Homo sapiens: one gene and its partner. The protein of the gene in region 1 binds, or shares a complex with, the protein of each later gene. Each region holds a gene or a part of one and is shown in the gene's direction. Other genes may lie near its edges.

The links.
Region 2: the proteins of SEC31A (region 1) and PDCD6 are in contact, whole or in part, in a crystal structure (PDB 3WXA), measured with the Homo sapiens proteins. Residues at the interface, in NP_001070675.1 of Homo sapiens: Asn837, Pro838, Pro839, Pro840, Pro841, Gly842, Phe843, Ile844, Met845; in NP_037364.1 of Homo sapiens: Val31 (codon at 5,364), Val35 (codon at 6,265), Leu48 (codon at 6,304), Ala51 (codon at 6,313), Leu52 (codon at 6,316), Ser53 (codon at 6,319), Asn54 (codon at 6,322), Gly55, Thr56, Trp57, Phe85, Trp89, Ile92, Gln96, Phe99, Phe148.

The regions. Positions count from the first base shown.
Region 1 is NC_000004.12:82,873,493-82,881,369, reverse strand, and holds part of SEC31A (protein transport protein Sec31A), read left to right. Parts: intron 1-447; coding exon 448-571; intron 572-2,441; coding exon 2,442-2,640; intron 2,641-5,547; coding exon 5,548-5,643; intron 5,644-6,618; coding exon 6,619-6,759; intron 6,760-7,877. UniProt on the Homo sapiens protein: Component of the coat protein complex II (COPII) which promotes the formation of transport vesicles from the endoplasmic reticulum (ER).
Region 2 is NC_000005.10:266,448-275,120, forward strand, and holds the start of PDCD6 (programmed cell death protein 6), read left to right. Parts: upstream 1-5,198; 5' UTR 5,199-5,273; coding exon 5,274-5,374; intron 5,375-6,263; coding exon 6,264-6,325; intron 6,326-8,673. UniProt on the Homo sapiens protein: Calcium sensor that plays a key role in processes such as endoplasmic reticulum (ER)-Golgi vesicular transport, endosomal biogenesis or membrane repair.

The DNA.
Region 1 (7,877 bases):
CCTCAGCCTCCCAAGTAGCTGGGACTACAGGCGTCCACCACCATGCCTGGCTAATTTTTTGTATTTTTAGTAGAGATGGGATTTCACCATGTTAGCCAGGATGGTCTTGATCTCCTGACCTCATGATCCACCCATCTCGGCCTCCCAAAGTGCTGGGATTACAGGCATGAGCCACCGTGCCCAGCCCCCATCACGGGACCATTTTTACAGAGATTTTTAAATATATACAGGCTTAAAAAATTATTTACACTACCCACTCTTATAAACATCCTCTCCTAGCCCTGTGCCAGAATCTCATTGCTATAGTAATTTAAGCATCTGCTCAATGGCATATGTGCAGCATTCATGAGCAAGAGAATGGAAAACATGCTTTTAACTTCTGTTTTGTATGGTTTCTCTGATCTTTTATTTTTGTGTGTATAGTTACCATAAATATATTTTCTATAGGAACATCTGCTCAGCAATTGGATGCAACATTTAGTACGAATGCTTCCCTTGAGATATTTGAATTAGACCTCTCTGATCCATCCTTGGATATGAAATCTTGTGCCACATTCTCCTCTTCTCACAGGTATGAGGTTCAGCTTTAAATTCATGTGATTATTTAATTATATATTGTTCTTGATTCCTAATTTGTCTATAATTATGCCATTATTAGAAACTACAAGGAATACCATCAAGAACATGAAATATTTTGTGAAAAAGCATGTGAGTGAATTTTTATGGAAGTAAAAGTAGTGTTTATGTGTTCTATTGACTTTTTTTTTTCTTTTTTTTTTTTGAGACAGAATCTTACTTCATAGCTCAGGCTGGAGTGCAGTGGCACGATCTCGGCTCACTGCAACCTCCACCTTCCAGGCTCAAGCAATTCTTGTGCCTCAGCCTCCCGAGTAGCTGGGATTACAGGTGCACACCACCTTGCCCAGCTAATTTTGTGTCTTTAGTAGCGACAGGGTTTTGCCATGTTGGCCAGGCTGGTTTTGAACTCTTGACCTCAAGCAATCCACCCACCTTAGCCTCCCAAAGTGCTGAGATTATAGGCATGAGGAATCACGCTTGGCCAGTATGTTCTGTTGGCTTTTTTATTGCTGTTACATGTAAGGTAGGAAGGAGAGGCTGTAGTTTCTAGCATTTTTTTCTGTTTTTTTGGTGTGTGTGTGGTTTTTTTTGTTTTTGTTTTTTTTTTGAGATGGAGTTTCACTCTTGTTGCCCAGGCTGGAGTGCAATGGCGCAATCTCGGCTCACCACAACCTCTGCCTCCTAGGTTCTAGCAATTCTCCTGCCTCAGCCTCCCGAGTAGCTGGGATTACAGGCATGTGCCACCATGCCTGGCTAATTTTGTATAGAGTTCTTTTTTCTATCTCCTTTATTGTGCCTGTTTACAAAAAGGTAGATGTGACTAGAAAAGGAGTAGTCATCGTAAGTATTAATAGTGATTATCTCTGAATGGTAGCTTATTTTTATTTTCTTCTGTTACGATATTTAGAAATATATCTCACAGTTTTGTTGACACGATTTCTAATACACTAGGTAACTAGGTATTTGGATCATACTTTCAAGTACTTATGCCCTATTGTAATGCAGAGAAAGGAGGTCTTCATTTCAGTAATAAAATAAGCTTTATTGCCTCAATATATTAGCAGGGTTTAAAGAGATTGCTCTTTAGCTGACAGAATATAGCTCAAATCATGCAGTTTCATGGGACCGCTCATATTCTTCAGAGCTGTCACAGTGGGATGGGAACCCCAGATACCTTTTGTCTAGTAGTTTTTCTGCTTACTACCATCTGTATCATCGTATACCTTTCTGCCTTCATATTTCATCTCCATTCTGGACCATATATTTTATTCTCTAATAGTAGGGGTACTTGTTATAATCTTGATGTCATTTTTCTACCATTAGAATACATTCTTTTTCTTAGAAAATTTCACATGACTCCTTTAACACCTTTACTATTTAACAGACCACTTGTTAGTGACCCCCCCTTTTTTTTTTTTTCAGACAAAGGTCAAAGCATGAGACCCTTCTATAGTCAAATAAAGAGTGTTTTTACCTTTCGAGGGAAGTGATTGATTAGCTCTATTTTACAATGAACCAGAGGCAATTTAAGAAGATTAAGTAACTTAGGGTCTCACAGTTTCTAAATGGTAAAATCATTCTTAAGCTCATATTTTTTGACACACAACTCAAGTATATTTTGTTACACTACCTTACAAGAGTTTTTACTCTTTAAGGATTACAAAATCACATATGCAAATATGAGTATAAATAAAAAATGAAATACTATTACACCAAAGTCATACATAGTTACCAGGAGTGGTGGGAAAGTAATATATTTGGATTGTTTATGAAAACATTAAAAATTAAGTGTATAATTTCAATTTTTTGTCTACATTTATTTGACTTTAAGAATGAATGATTTTATTCATTTTCTCCTGTAGGTACCACAAGTTGATTTGGGGGCCTTATAAAATGGATTCCAAAGGAGATGTCTCTGGAGTTCTGATTGCAGGTGGTGAAAATGGAAATATTATTCTCTATGATCCTTCTAAAATTATAGCTGGAGACAAGGAAGTTGTGATTGCCCAGAATGACAAGCATACTGGCCCAGTGAGAGCCTTGGATGTGAACATTTTCCAGGTTAAGACTTTAACATTTCATAATTCTTAGACTATGTGCTGCTCATTTGAAATCAGTATATGAATCTACTATGCCTCAGTTTTGGAATTGAAAGTTAAAAAACTGTGGCTATACAGGTTGACGAGTGTTTGTTTAAAGAATGGTGGGTTCAGAGTTGAGATCAGGGTTAAAAATACTACCTCCATGAAAAGGATCCGGCTGATAGGTTTTTGTTTTTGTTTTTGTTTTTGTTTTTTTGAGACGGAGTCTCGCTCTGTCACCAGGCTGGAGTGCAGTGGCATGATCTTGGCTCACTGCAACCTCTGCCTCCTGGGTTCAAGTGATTCTCCTGCCTCAGCCTCCCGAGTAGCTGGGATTACAGGCGCCTGCCACCACGCCCAGCTAATTTTTGTACTTTTAGTAGAGATGGGGTTTCACCATGTTGGCCAGAATGGTCTCGATCTCTTGACCTTGTGATCCGCCCGCCTCGGCCTCCCAAAGTGCTGGGATTACAGACGTGAGCCACTGTGCCCAGCTGGCTAATAGGTTTAAGTCTGAAGATGTCACGCCATTTGATTAGACATTTTATAAACATTAAGATCCCTATAGGTTGGAAACCTTGCCTTTTAAAAGTTCATGCTAGGTCAGCATTAGGCTGGTGCTGTGATGTCCAGGTTAATTCACTGTTTTATTAATTGAGAAATTTTATGTTTATGACAGAGATTAATACTCTATGAAATAATTAGAAATTAAATGTAATGGCTGGGCATGTGGCTCACACCTGTGTAATCCCAGCACTTTGAGAGGCCGAGGCAGACAGATCATGAGGTCAGGAGTTCGAGACCAGCCTGGCCAACGTGGTGAAACCCCGTCTCTACTAAAAATACAAAAATTAGCCGGGCATGGTGGCAGGCACCTGTAATCCCAGCTATTCGGGAGTCTGAGGCAGGAGAATCGCTTGAACCCGGGAGGCGGAGATCGCAGTGAGTTGAGATCGTGCCATTGCACTCCAGCCTGGGCAACGAGCAAAACTCAAAAAAAGAAAAAAGAAATGTAATGCAGATTTAACAAATAGTCAATTAAGATTCTTTGTACTGTTGCCTTCATAAACATTTCTGGTTGTTAATTATATAAATGCACAGCTTAATAACGATCTTAGCCTGAACAGGATGGTGAAACCCTGTCATTACAAAAAATGCAAACAATTAGCAGAACATGGTGGCACACGCCTGTAGTCTCAGCTACACGGGAGGCTGAGGTAGGTTGATGGCTTTAGCCTGGGAGGTCTACGCTGCAGTGAGCTATGATCACACCACTGCACTGCAACCTGGGTGACACATAGAGACCCTGTCTGGAAAAAAAAAAAAGACCTTGAGTTAATAGGATACTAGATTATAACAACCAAAAATGAGTATTAAGAAAATTTTAAATAGTTCCTTTTCTTATATTATAAATAGATACTTAGGGTATAGCAATACAGAAACCCAACTTGTTTATTTCTTTTTTGTTGTTGTTTTTTGTTTTTTGAAACAGCGTCTTGCTCCCTCTGCCAGGCTGGACTGCAGTGGCTCATGACTCACTGCAGTCTTGACCTCCTGGGCTCAAGCAAGTCTTCTGTCTCAGCCACCTGAGTAGCTGGGACTACAGGCATGAGCCACAACACCTGGCTAATTTTTGTAGAGACAGGGTTTTTTCGTGTTGGTCAAGCTGGTCCCAAACTCCTGGGCTCAAGTGGTCTGTCTGCCTCAGCCTCCCAAAGTGCTGTGACTACAGGCATGAGCCACTGTGCCCAGCCTTCGTTTCTATAGTTTGTGGTATCTGCTCTTTAGCTAACTCCTTTGTTAATTGTATTGAACAGCTGATGATTTTTAATAAAGTATTTTGTGTTATAGGTAGCTACTACCATAGAATGTCTCCCTTTTTTTAGTTATATGCCAACTGATAGAGAATAATTTGTAAGAGTAAATAGTAGTGGATGAAGGTCAGTATATGAAGCCCATTATCTTCCTGTACTTTATATTACAATTTCAGGTTCTTTTTGACCCTTAAGGTATGTACCAGAGAAAACCTAGAAATATTGCCACCTGGAATAAGATTGAGTGTATATGAACTAGAAATATGTGAAGAGTTATGACAAGAGATTTTACTAGTGCTGTATTGATTCAGCTCTGGAAGCTGGCTTTGAGGTATCCTGAGAAAGATGCCACAGTTTTAGGATTCAGCTTTTTCTGAAAGCAATAATTGATGACCTTTTTAATCTTATAATTAAATCTCCTTCCAGAGATGCAAAGATACAAACAGTAATCCTCACATGGTTGCATGACTGATTAAGAATTTATCCAGCCAGGTTTGGTGGCTCACGCCTGTAATCCCAGCACTTTGGGAGGCCGAGGCAGGTGGATCACCTGAGGTCAGGAGTTTGAGACCAGCCTGACCAACATGGAGAAACCCCGTCTCTACTAAAAATACAGAATTAGCCGGGAGTGGTGGTGCATGCCTGTAATCCTAGCTACTCGGGAGGCTGAGGCAGGAGAATCACTTGGACCCGGGAGGCGGAAGTTGTGGTGAGCTGAGATTGCACCATTGCACTCCAGCCTGGGCAACAAGAGCAAAACTCCATCTCAAAAAAAAAAAAAAAAAAAAGAATTTATCCATATAATTTTTAAAATAATATCTTGCATTAAAATTAATTTGTTCTCAGTAGACATCTTTTGTCTTTGTTAAGTAGAATTTTATGTTTTTCTAGAAAACTTTAAATTTTGAAAGAATTATGCATAATTTAGAAATTCATGCATATGTTTTTCACTTTTCAAATTAAATAGAAAAATTGTGTATGCTACATCTAATATCTTTCTAGCTCTGAACTGAGTTATTCTGAATTTTCTTAATTATTCATAAGTGCTATTTAGTTATGGTTTCTTCTTGCAGACTAATCTGGTAGCTTCTGGTGCTAATGAATCTGAAATCTACATATGGGATCTAAATAATTTTGCAACCCCAATGACACCAGGAGCCAAAACACAGGTATTTTTATATTGATTTTGATCATTGTAATCAAAAAAGCCAAAAGTAGTTCTCCTAAACCTACTTATTTCACTTTTAAGGCTTCTCACACAAAACATATATGTTTAAAATCATTGTTTAGATATTACTGATTTTTCTTCAGTAATTAATAAATATGTTTCTTCAAAGTATCAGTGAGTCCATCAAGAGTAAATATTTATTTAGTACCTACCACCTGGTAGACACTGGTCATTGTACTAGGCATACAGTAGTAAACAAAATGAACAAAAATCCTTAATAATTGTCTTAGATATAGTATAATTATTTTTGTTCTTTGTGTGATAGTTGCTCTGTGTTTTGGCAACAACCAACCTTCTTAAAACACACTTAGACAAGACCATGGAAGACAAGGTTTAAAATAAATACCTCAAGCCCTTTGCTTGTGTATTTCTATTAAGTTTGGTAACAACAGTCTTCTCCTGTTCTTCCCTGAGTTTCTTTATGTTGTATAGGCTATCCAACTTGAGTAGCCATTGTAACTGGCTCTAACATTTTGGCAATCTGAGAGGTAGCATAATGACAGCATATGCACTACCATTTATAAAGGTATTTTGCTAATGGTCTAGGCTGTAATTTTGCCCTGCCTAGTTTTCTGTCATAGTCACCAACATCTACTTTGTGGTCCATAATCTACCTTGCAGCAGTTGCAAAGTAAAGAAACAGTACTTGGTTTATAGCAGAAATTCAATAAAATTCTTGTTGAATGAGATATTATGAAACAAGATAATACACTTGAAGTGGTATGTACCTGCATTTTAAGTCATATAATTTTATGTGTTGAGAATGTAGAGATGTAGGACTATAAAGCAAATTTGTGGCATAAATGGATCAGATTTTTAAGTAATACACTTTTCAAAATGAAGGATCCAATTTTACAGTTAAATTTGATTATAATAGAGAAACAAGCAGTTTTTATTAACTGTTTCTTCCTTGTAGCCGCCAGAAGATATCAGCTGCATTGCATGGAACAGACAAGTTCAGCATATTTTAGCATCAGCCAGTCCCAGTGGCCGGGCCACTGTATGGGATCTTAGAAAAAATGAGCCAATCATCAAAGTCAGTGACCATAGTAACAGAGTAAGTATGTGATTGACTTGTGATGAACATGTTGTATTTCTGCTGTAGGTATTCCTATATTGTTTGTCAGAGTTGACAACAAATCAAATTTCTGTGAAGTCAAATCCTGTTTTTTTATTAATCAGTCATGTTAGAAGGAATGTTTTGTTTTTTTTCCTCTAAGGGAAAATCATAAAATTCCCAATAAATATGTTGGATATTATTAATGATGAAGAGAGATTGGTTAATCAAGGAACTTATTCCATGATATACTGGTGGTTTTGCTTTGCTAGCTGTTTTAAAACATTGCAGCAACTTTTTTTTTTTTTTTCTTGAGACGGAGTCTCGCTTTGTCGCCCAGGCTGGAGTACAGTGGCGTGATCTCGGCTCACTGCAACCTCTGCCTCCTGGGTTCAAGCACTTCTCCTGCCCCAGCCTTCCGAGTAGCTGAGATTACAGGCATGCACCATCAAGCCCGGCTAATTTTTGTATTTTTGGTAGAGATGGGGTTTCACCATGTTGGTCTGGCTGGTCTCAAACTCCTGACCTCGTGATCTGCCTGCCTCGGCCTCCCAAAGTGCTGGGATTACAGGCATGAGCTTCTGTGCCCGGCCATTGCAGCAACTTTTTAATTCATCTTTAACTTTTCTTAGAATGTAAAAATTTTTCCTGCTGGAAGCTTCATCACTGTGAACTTGTAATATTTGACTTCTTGGCCTCATCTCTTCCTCTGATTAGGTACTGCTAAAATGAGCTAATATATTTTCGGCACTTACCCATAGAGCACATTAAATTCTGAACCTTTTAGGTATCTTTATTTTTTTATGTCATTAGATGCCATAAAATAATTTAGATATAATTTGGAGCTTTTTTTGTTTGTTTGTTTATGAGTACATTGGATAGTTTGACATTTTCTAAAATAAGTTTGCCAAAAGTCAGGCATACATATGTAGTTTAAAAACAACAATAACAACAAAAAACTATTTGGGAGAACACTTCTTCAGAGTATTGTTTTCAAGTGAATCAGGAGTTTTAAAACAGAAGTTTCAATGGAATAAACCATACCAGAAGCATTTTAGTCATTTTGTGGAATATTTAATAGAATTTGAACTTGCAGATAGTTCCTAATAATGTTAATT
Region 2 (8,673 bases), on another chromosome or scaffold:
CTGAGACCAGGAAAACCACTGGGCAGTGGGTGGTCTGGAAATGTAAATGTTTATAGTACTCCATGGAGTACTATATGAGTCATGGAACGATGTTTCATATTGAAAATGTTTTATAAATGTGGGTTTCAAGGTTTTAAAGTGAACCCATGTGTGTGAGGAGAAAGGACACACCAAAGAAGTAAAATAATTGGGTCAATATAAAAAGAAAGTAGAATATTGCCCAGAGAGGAGATGTGGATAATTCCTAACACGGATCAAAGGTGAGCTGTGTCTAAGACAGTCAGACCTGCACCGTCCCGTGCAGTAGACACCGTGGCCGCTGTGTCTGAGATATTCAGACCCTCGCCGTCCCGTGCAGTAGACACGGTGGCCGCTGTCTGTAAGATATTCAGACCCTCGCCGTCCCGTGCAGTAGACACGGTGGCCGCTGTGTCTAAAATATTCAGTCCCGTGCAGTAGACACGGTGGCCGCTGTGTCTAAGATATTCAGACCTGCACCATCCTGAGCAGTAGCCACAGTGGCAAGTAGCCTCTGCACTGGACAGTGCAGCTACAGAATGATGCTATCACTAGAAAGTTCCATCAGCCAGCACTGATGCAGACCTTTGCAAATGCCCCTCACACTGAATAGCACCTAGCTGATAGATTGTCCACTACTCAGTGAAAAGCCTGTGTTAAAAGCAGTATTTGGTAGAAAAGCAAAAAAGGGGAAAAAATTAAAAGTGGTAAGTCATTGTCTTCCTTACTGAATTCTAGCAGAAGAATGTTGGAAGGAAGATGGGAGTCACGGGAGAAAGTATCATTGTCCCAGGACAGGAGGGGGTGCCAGGCATGGTTGGCTCTGTCCCTGGAATTCTATGGCGGGAATCTGGAAAAAGGAAAAGTGACTGGAGAAGAAAAGATTCTGTGTGCAAATGTCATGATGCAGCCATCAGTCATCCTGAGAAAATAAGCGAACAAAGTGGCTTCAGATGGATGCTGTTGGATACATGTACAGATACAATGTACACTTGCATATGCTTGTTCACACAAAGGACAGGATGGTTATCTGTTCATTTAACAAATACTTGTTGAGGGCCTATATGTGCCAAAGACATCAGATGCATAAGAGGGTGCACTATGGAAAGCCTCAGGAACACAAGTGCCCAGAAACATTTAGAAAAATTCTAATGAAAACAGAAAAGGCATTTTCAAATTAGCTGAGAGAAACGAGACCAAAGGAAAGACTGACCCAGTATTTGGATACATTATGTGATGAACCTTAATGCAGGGAGGAAAGTGTTATCTTTCAGTTAATTTCTCAACTTCTGGAGAGCTTAGAACAGACCTGGCTAGGAGGAAATTGAATCTGAGGCAGATGAGGAGATAGTGGTGCCTTGATGCTTCCAGTGATTGGGTCAGCAGAACCAGGGGTGGGAGATGATCTCTCTTTTTGTTGGCAGATGGTGGTCTCTGCTGTAGCTTTGTCCCCTGGTGACGGGACTCAGGCAGCAACCCCCATCATTGGCAATACCCCCACCTCTGAGAATGTGGAGAGGACTTGTGAAGACAATGTTGTCCCAAGCAGCACAGCCCAGGTACTGACAGGATTCAGAGCTAGAGGTTTCTTAGAGGTCAGGGTTGTAGAAGCAGCAGGGACTGCAGCTGCATAGTTTGTGTATGTAACAGGCTAGTATCTCTTGTTCTAGACTCATCCATTTGTACATTCATATGAGTATGCACGCAGGGTGTTTTTTCTTTCTTTTTTTTTTTTTGAGACGGAGTCTCACTCTGTTGCCCAGGCTGGAGTGCCTGGTGCAATCTCGGCTCACTGCAAGCTCCGCCTCCCGGGTTCACGCCATTCTCCTGCCTCAGCCTCCCAAGTAGCTGGGATTACAGGCACCTGCCACCACGTCTGGCTAATTTTTTGTATTTTTAGTAGAGACGAGGTTTCACCATGTTAGCCAGGATGGTCTTGATCCACCCGCCTCAGCCTCCCAAAGTGCTGGAATTACAGCTGTGAGCCACCGCGCCTGGCCAGGGTGTTTTTTCTTTAAACCTTAATTTCATAGTAATTAACCTCCCTTTCAAGAGTCAGCCTTGCTGCCCCTGAGATGATGCAGAAAAAGCACAAAAGGATCTGGGCTTGAATCTCCTCTTACTGCCTGCTTGGCTTTAGGCAAGTTACCTTCTCTGAACTCTAGTTTTCTCTTCAGTAAAATGTGGATATGGTGCCTTGGCATGGGGAGGATTAAACAAAGCCACATATTTAAATATTATAAGGGTGGATTATATTTAAATATTAAAAGGGTGGATTCTAGCTGGTTGCATTCATTAAGTGTGTCCTCTCTTGAATGAAGGCATTTTCTACCCCTAGAACTAAAGGGAAAGCATGACGGAGCACTCCTGGGTGCCATGGGTGATGATGGCTGTGGTACTCCAGGTTGGAGACTCGGCCAACAGTTGGTAGAGCCCAACTAACTGTTGGGAGTGGAGGCTGAGGCCTGCTGCAGTCACTGAGATGCTCCCCCTTTTAAAAAATTTTAAAATAGCCCAAGCTAGTCTTGAAGTTCTGGCCTCAAGTGATCCTCCCACCTCAGCCTCCCAAAGTACTGGGATTATAGACATGAGCCACTGCGTCTAGCACTGAGCTGTTTCTTGCTGAGGTTTCCCTGTAAGAACTTCCAAATTGGGTCACAAAATCATAGTTGTTAGTATTTTCAGAGTTCTGGAGAACAAAACAGGAGCCAGTGATGGGAGGGAGAATAAAGATGGACTTCAGAAACTACAGCTCAAAGAGCTGTGGAAGATTCTAGAAAGGATTCTTCAACAAGTGATATGAATACTTTGTCAATGAAAAGGCTGAACCTCTGTGAAATACTTGAAGAGATTTATTCTGAGCCAAATAGAGTGGCCACGCCCATGACACAGACCTCAGGAGGTGGCTGGGGTGCAACTTGGTTTTATGCATTTTAGAGGGTCGTGAGACATCAATCAAATCTATTCAAGATATACATTGGTTCAGTCCAGAAAGGCAGGACAACTCAAAGTGGGGGCTTCTGGGTTATAGGTAGATTTAAAAATGTTCTGATTGGCAATTAGTTGAGAGTTATTACCAATAGAAAGGAATGTCTGGGTTATAAGAGGTTGTGGAGACCAAAGTTTTATCAGCAGAAGAAGCCTTGGGGTAGCAGGCTTCAGAGAGAATAGATGGTGTTTCTCATTAGACTTAAGGTCTGTGTTGGCTTTCCCTGAATTCCAAAAGGGAGGAGGGCATAGTCAGCCATGTCCCACCCGCCCCCACTTCATGTCGTGGCCTGAACGGTTTTCAGGTTAATTTGGAGTGCCCTGGCCCAGAGAAGGGGTCCATTCAGATGGGGTGGGGCCTTAGAATTTTACTTTTGGTTTACAACTTTATGAAGAGACCATTAGAAACCACTTGAATTCACATCATGAAAAAAAATCCACACTGTAAAAAAGGTTTGTAGATTAACACATTAGGTGAATGCCAAAGCCACAGAATATCTAAATTTCTCTGAGGAATTTGAAAACTCTCAGGTATATGCCTTGTGGACAAGAGAGACAGAAAAATGGGACAGAGGATGAGATAGTTTGGAGAATGGATAGCTGATCAGATCTGTAGCTGTGCCCAGAGTGCTGAATAATGGATTTGCGTCCACAGGGAAGAAAGTCTCAGGTGCCACTGATAAAAGACCACGTCCTTGGCTCTGGGTCCATTCAACATCTTGGTAGACAACTGAGTGAAAATTCAGAGACAACCCTAGGAAGTATGAGGATGAAAAAAGTTAGCATTCATGGAATGAGGCACTGAAGAAACTGAAAAGCTGAAATAACCCCATGAAATAATGAGAATAATTGTAGTATTCTGAACCGGGGCACAGGACACAGGACCGGGGTGGAAGGCGGCACGAGACTACGCGCGTGGGAAAGACCCAGGGATCACAGTGGCCCAAAGCTGGGCACTTCCCAATTCCGGGATTTGTGCTACAGGCACTCCAGGCTCCACCTTAGAACTGTGTCCAGCACGAAGGCAGTGCTGTCTTGCGGGAGGCAGGGCTGCACCACCACCGGGGTGTGAAGGGGCCCAGCAGGCAGGGGTGTGAAGGGGCCCAGCAGTGTTTCCAGCTGCACGGGGTCAGGGGCCGCGCTGATGCAGAGCACGGGGGCGCAGGTTAAACCTAAAGGAGGGAAGCTTTTGGGGGCGGAACAGACAACCGAGAATGCTGCACACTGCCTTTCCCACCCGAATTGTGTTTTGACTTTTTTTTTTTTTTTTTTTTGAGACAGAGTTTTGCACTTGTTGCCCAGGCCTGGAGTGCAATGGCCCGATCTCGGATCACTGCAACCTCCTCCTCCCGGTTTCAAGCAATTCTCCTGCCTCAGCCTCCCGAGTAGCTGGGATTACAGGTGTGCACCATCACGCCCGGTTAGTTTTGTATTTTTAGTAGATACGGGGTGTCTCCCAATTGGCCAAGGCTGGTCTCGAACTCCCGACTTCAGGTAATCCACTGGCCTTGGCCTCCCAAAGTGCTGGGATTACAGGCGTGAGCCACCGCGCCCGGCCTGCTTTTGCTTTCTTTTTTTTTTTTTTTTTTTTGGCAGAGTCTCGCTGTCCACCCCTGTAGTGCAGTGAGCTCGGCTCCCTGCGGCCTTGACCTCCCGGGCTCAGGCAATCCTCCCGCCTCAGCCCACGGAGTAGATGGGACCACAGGAGCCCACCACGCCCGACTACTTTTTGTAATTTTTGTAGGGATGGGGTCTATCCATGCTGCCCAGGCTGGTCCGAACTGCTGGGCTCAAGAGCTCCGCCCGCCTCCGCCTCCCAAAGGGCAGGGATCACAGGTGTGAGCTACCGCGCCCCGCCCAGAGTTTCCGACTGTTAGCAAATCACATTCACCTCAAAACTATTTATACAAGAACTGAAAGGCAAACTAAGTCCGTGCTCCATCACTTCCTGTCCCAGGTCGCGGGGCCGGACATTTTCTCCAAGCGCTTTCCTGGCACAGCGCGCAGGCGGCCTGCGCCAAAGCTCTGGCTTCCTCCAGGCGCCCAGACCCCGCCCTCCCCGCAGGCGCCAGGGCGTTGCCTGGCAACTTAGCTGCGAGGGGATTGGCTGCGCGGGACCCCGTGACCATCCCGGAGACCACGCATTTCCTGCGCCCCCGGAAGTGGTGATAATGCCAGGCCCTGCCCCCGGCAGAGGCGGAAGCGGAGTCGGCCTGAGAGGTCTCTCGTCGCTGCAGGCGCCTCAGCCCAGCCGCGTGCCTTGGCCCATGGCCGCCTACTCTTACCGCCCCGGCCCTGGGGCCGGCCCTGGGCCTGCTGCAGGCGCGGCGCTGCCGGACCAGAGCTTCCTGTGGAACGTTTTCCAGAGGTGCGGCCTGGCACCGCCCGGGCACCTCCCGCCTCCGCCGCGGCGGCCCCGACCCCTGTCCCGACTCCCCCGACCAACCCCGTTCCCTGCCGGTTCTACTGCGGCCTCCTCCGTCCCCTGTCGGGTCCCCCGCGGCCCCCTCCCGTCCCCTGCCGCCGCCCCCGACCCCTGCCCCAGCCGACGCGGCCGCCCCCGTCCCCTGGCGGGTCCCCCGCGGTCTCCCCCGTCCGCTGCCCGGTCTCCTGGGGCCGCCCCTGCCTCCTGCCCGGTCCCTGTCCTGTGCGTCGGGCCCTTCCCAAGATGCAGAGTGCGCCACTGCAGACCCGAGGTCGCGGCCACCGGCTCCTGGGCTAGGCCCTTTTTCTCGCCTCAAGAGCCGCCAGGTGGAGGGTCTCCAGGGTGCTTGTTTGGGGAAAGCGGAAACAGACTGCCTGGGCGCTGTTAAAATGTCAGCAGCCAAGGAAGAAGCAGCGACCTGGCGTCTGCTCGGGCCAGGTGACCTTTATGGCGGCGCCTTCTGTCCCTGGTCGCTTTTCCACCGAATGTCCGAAACTGTAGTGACTGATGGCCAGGGAATGGCTTAGTTATCTGAGGGAATCTTGTCTTGTCTGTGAAAAAGGGAAACGGGTGCAAATGGGAATTCAGACAGGCCAGGAGAGGAAGGAAGGGAAGGATTGAGGTGAAGATGATTGTCCTCTTAGGGGAAGACCACACTGGACGTCGGCTCCTGGGGCACTTCCTTGATTCCGCTGTACTCCTCAGCGGGACGGGAGAGGCGGAGGTTCCAGGAGGGAGCCTTCCAGAGTCGGTGCAGGGTTGACAGAAGACGTTTGTTTTGCTTTTCCTGAACTTTCGATCGCCAGCTTATTTGGTCTTCTTGATGTTATAGGGTCGATAAAGACAGGAGTGGAGTGATATCAGACACCGAGCTTCAGCAAGCTCTCTCCAACGGTGAGTGGGCCAGTGGGAACTGGGTCTCCGGACCAAGAAGCCGCGAGCCTGCCCTGTTCACAGTGGATAACTTTCTGAAGTTGTTTTTCCAAGGACAAAGGAATCATTAGGACAAATTGTTATTACTGCTTCGTAGTGGAGATGCTTCTGGTTTATTTTGTGGCTACCGCTGTTACTGCTTGGAGTGCCTCACCGAGCCAGCTAACAACTGCGTGCGTGAGCACAGGGAAAGGCTTCTTGAGAAATGAAAACTAGATTGTAGGTTTAGGAGGGGAATAGGAAGCTTAGCTCTGTACAGCCGAAAGCCTTTTGGTAAGTTGGAGGTCCTTGAATTTCCTGGGTGACTGCATCTTGGTGACTTCTCTGAATAGACCTTCGAGGGCACTGGGGGGTGATTGTTGGAGGGCTTGGGGAGCTCAGGCAGCCCTTGTATGGGAATGTGGCTGTTACAGGAACTGCAGAAACTGGGACTGGGTTCCTGGGGAAAGGATTGGGGGTGTTGGAGGCGCTGGCCAGGGGATTATGGGGAGGTGTTCTTATCAGTGTGCGAATACTGGGCGTTCAGGCAGCGGGAAATCCGGGTCCTTGCGTGTTGTGAGCTCCCTGGAATTACGTTCTTGCCAGTTTCAGCTCAGTTGATCCCCCTCCCCTCCGCTATCATTGGACACATTTTACTTCATTGAAACCTGACTGCCACTTTTTCTGTAATCCCTCAGGGGCAGTCATCTTTTCTGATTCTGTGTATAGTTTGCTTTTCCAGATCCGTGCCATTTAAGCTAGAAAAGGGGTCAGTTTTGAGATGTTGTGAAAATGTTGAAAGGCTTCTTGTTATTAGTGGGAAGTATCTGAAGTTGCCAGAGACTGAACTGGGGCGCGGGGAGCACTACGGCTGCTAGACACTGCCTCACTGCGCTGTGGGTGGGGGGGTGCTGGATTCAGCCTTACTGCCTAATGATTTGTGAGGATTTGTGTTTTCAGAGTAACATTTTTACCTTATATTACGACATCAGTTCCTAATATGTGGCGTGTGGGCCACAGATGCTGGTGTATTATTTCACATGCATTTCTATAGATTGTTTTCAGGGAATTCAGAAATGCTGTTATCTCTACACTAGTGATTGTGCTTTCTTGGTTTTTCTCTTTTCATTATTCTTAAATCCTCGTTTTTTTTTTTTTTATTTGCATCTCAGTTCGTTTTTACTCGGGAAGTGCAAGACGTGGCTACTAGAAAGAGATGTCAAGAGAACCCGGAATCCAGTAGGCTACAATTTGGCAAATCTCAGCTTAAAACTTCCTAAATGTTGACCACAGTGGATGCAAATGGCTCTGTGCATCACCTGTTAAATATGGTCAGATGACCATCCAGGTTCAAGTGGTTTGTCACCAGGGTGATACAAGCCACACGGAGTGCCCTCCTCAGAGGCCATGTTTCAGAGACATTTATTTTGAGTGGTTTTCCAATGAGTGATGCAAGATTTATGATCCATTTTAACAGCCTGCTTTTTATGCATTTGCTCTAATTTTTAGATTTTAGGTTTAGTTTTAGGTTTTCTGTTAAACTTGCTCAAATAGGAGTGGTGGTCAAATACTGGACCGCATTAGTATGGTAGCCTGCCCACCTTGGCAGGCTCCACTGGAGTGCTTTGGGGCCTGCCTGGATTCCAGTCCTGGCTCTACCAGTTTTGTGTCCTCGCCGTTACTGGGAGGGAGTATTGAGGAAATGCATGCGAGGTGTTTCCGTGATTCCTGGCACGGAGCAAGTGCTCAGTAATTGTCAGCTGTGAGTATTAGTAGTAGCTAATACACTGGTACTATTCTTGGCTAACAAGCCAGCTCAAAGCTTTGATGGTTTTCCATTACCTGATGATGGTGATGATGGTTTCCACTTACTCAACACTCACACGCTGGGCTAGGCACTTAACCCAAATCCAAGGTCAGCATTATTGTTTGGGGGTGGGGGAGACACCTCCTGCTCTGACTTGTGTGTTTGGGTTCCTGTATTTTCACCAGAGGGAGTTAGTCCTGCCCCAGTTCAGCTGGTCCTCAAAGTGTATATAGCTCTTTAACCATCAGCAAGTGTCTATCAGAACATAATCTTGATTTCAGCTGCTACTAAATATCTACCAGGAGACTGCTTGAGAGAATTGCCTGATGGGTGCTGAGTCCACCATTCCTGAGATACTTTGAAATCAGTGGCTTAACCCAAGCTGTGTATCGGGACCCTCTCACCGTGGTCCCAATGGAGTCACTTTTCTTAGGCGCCCCCCTTTACCTTGGGCTCTGAGCTTCCTCTGCCTTTCATCTCTGTGGGATGAAGCCCCACCGCCCTTCAGGATGCAAAGCCCTCT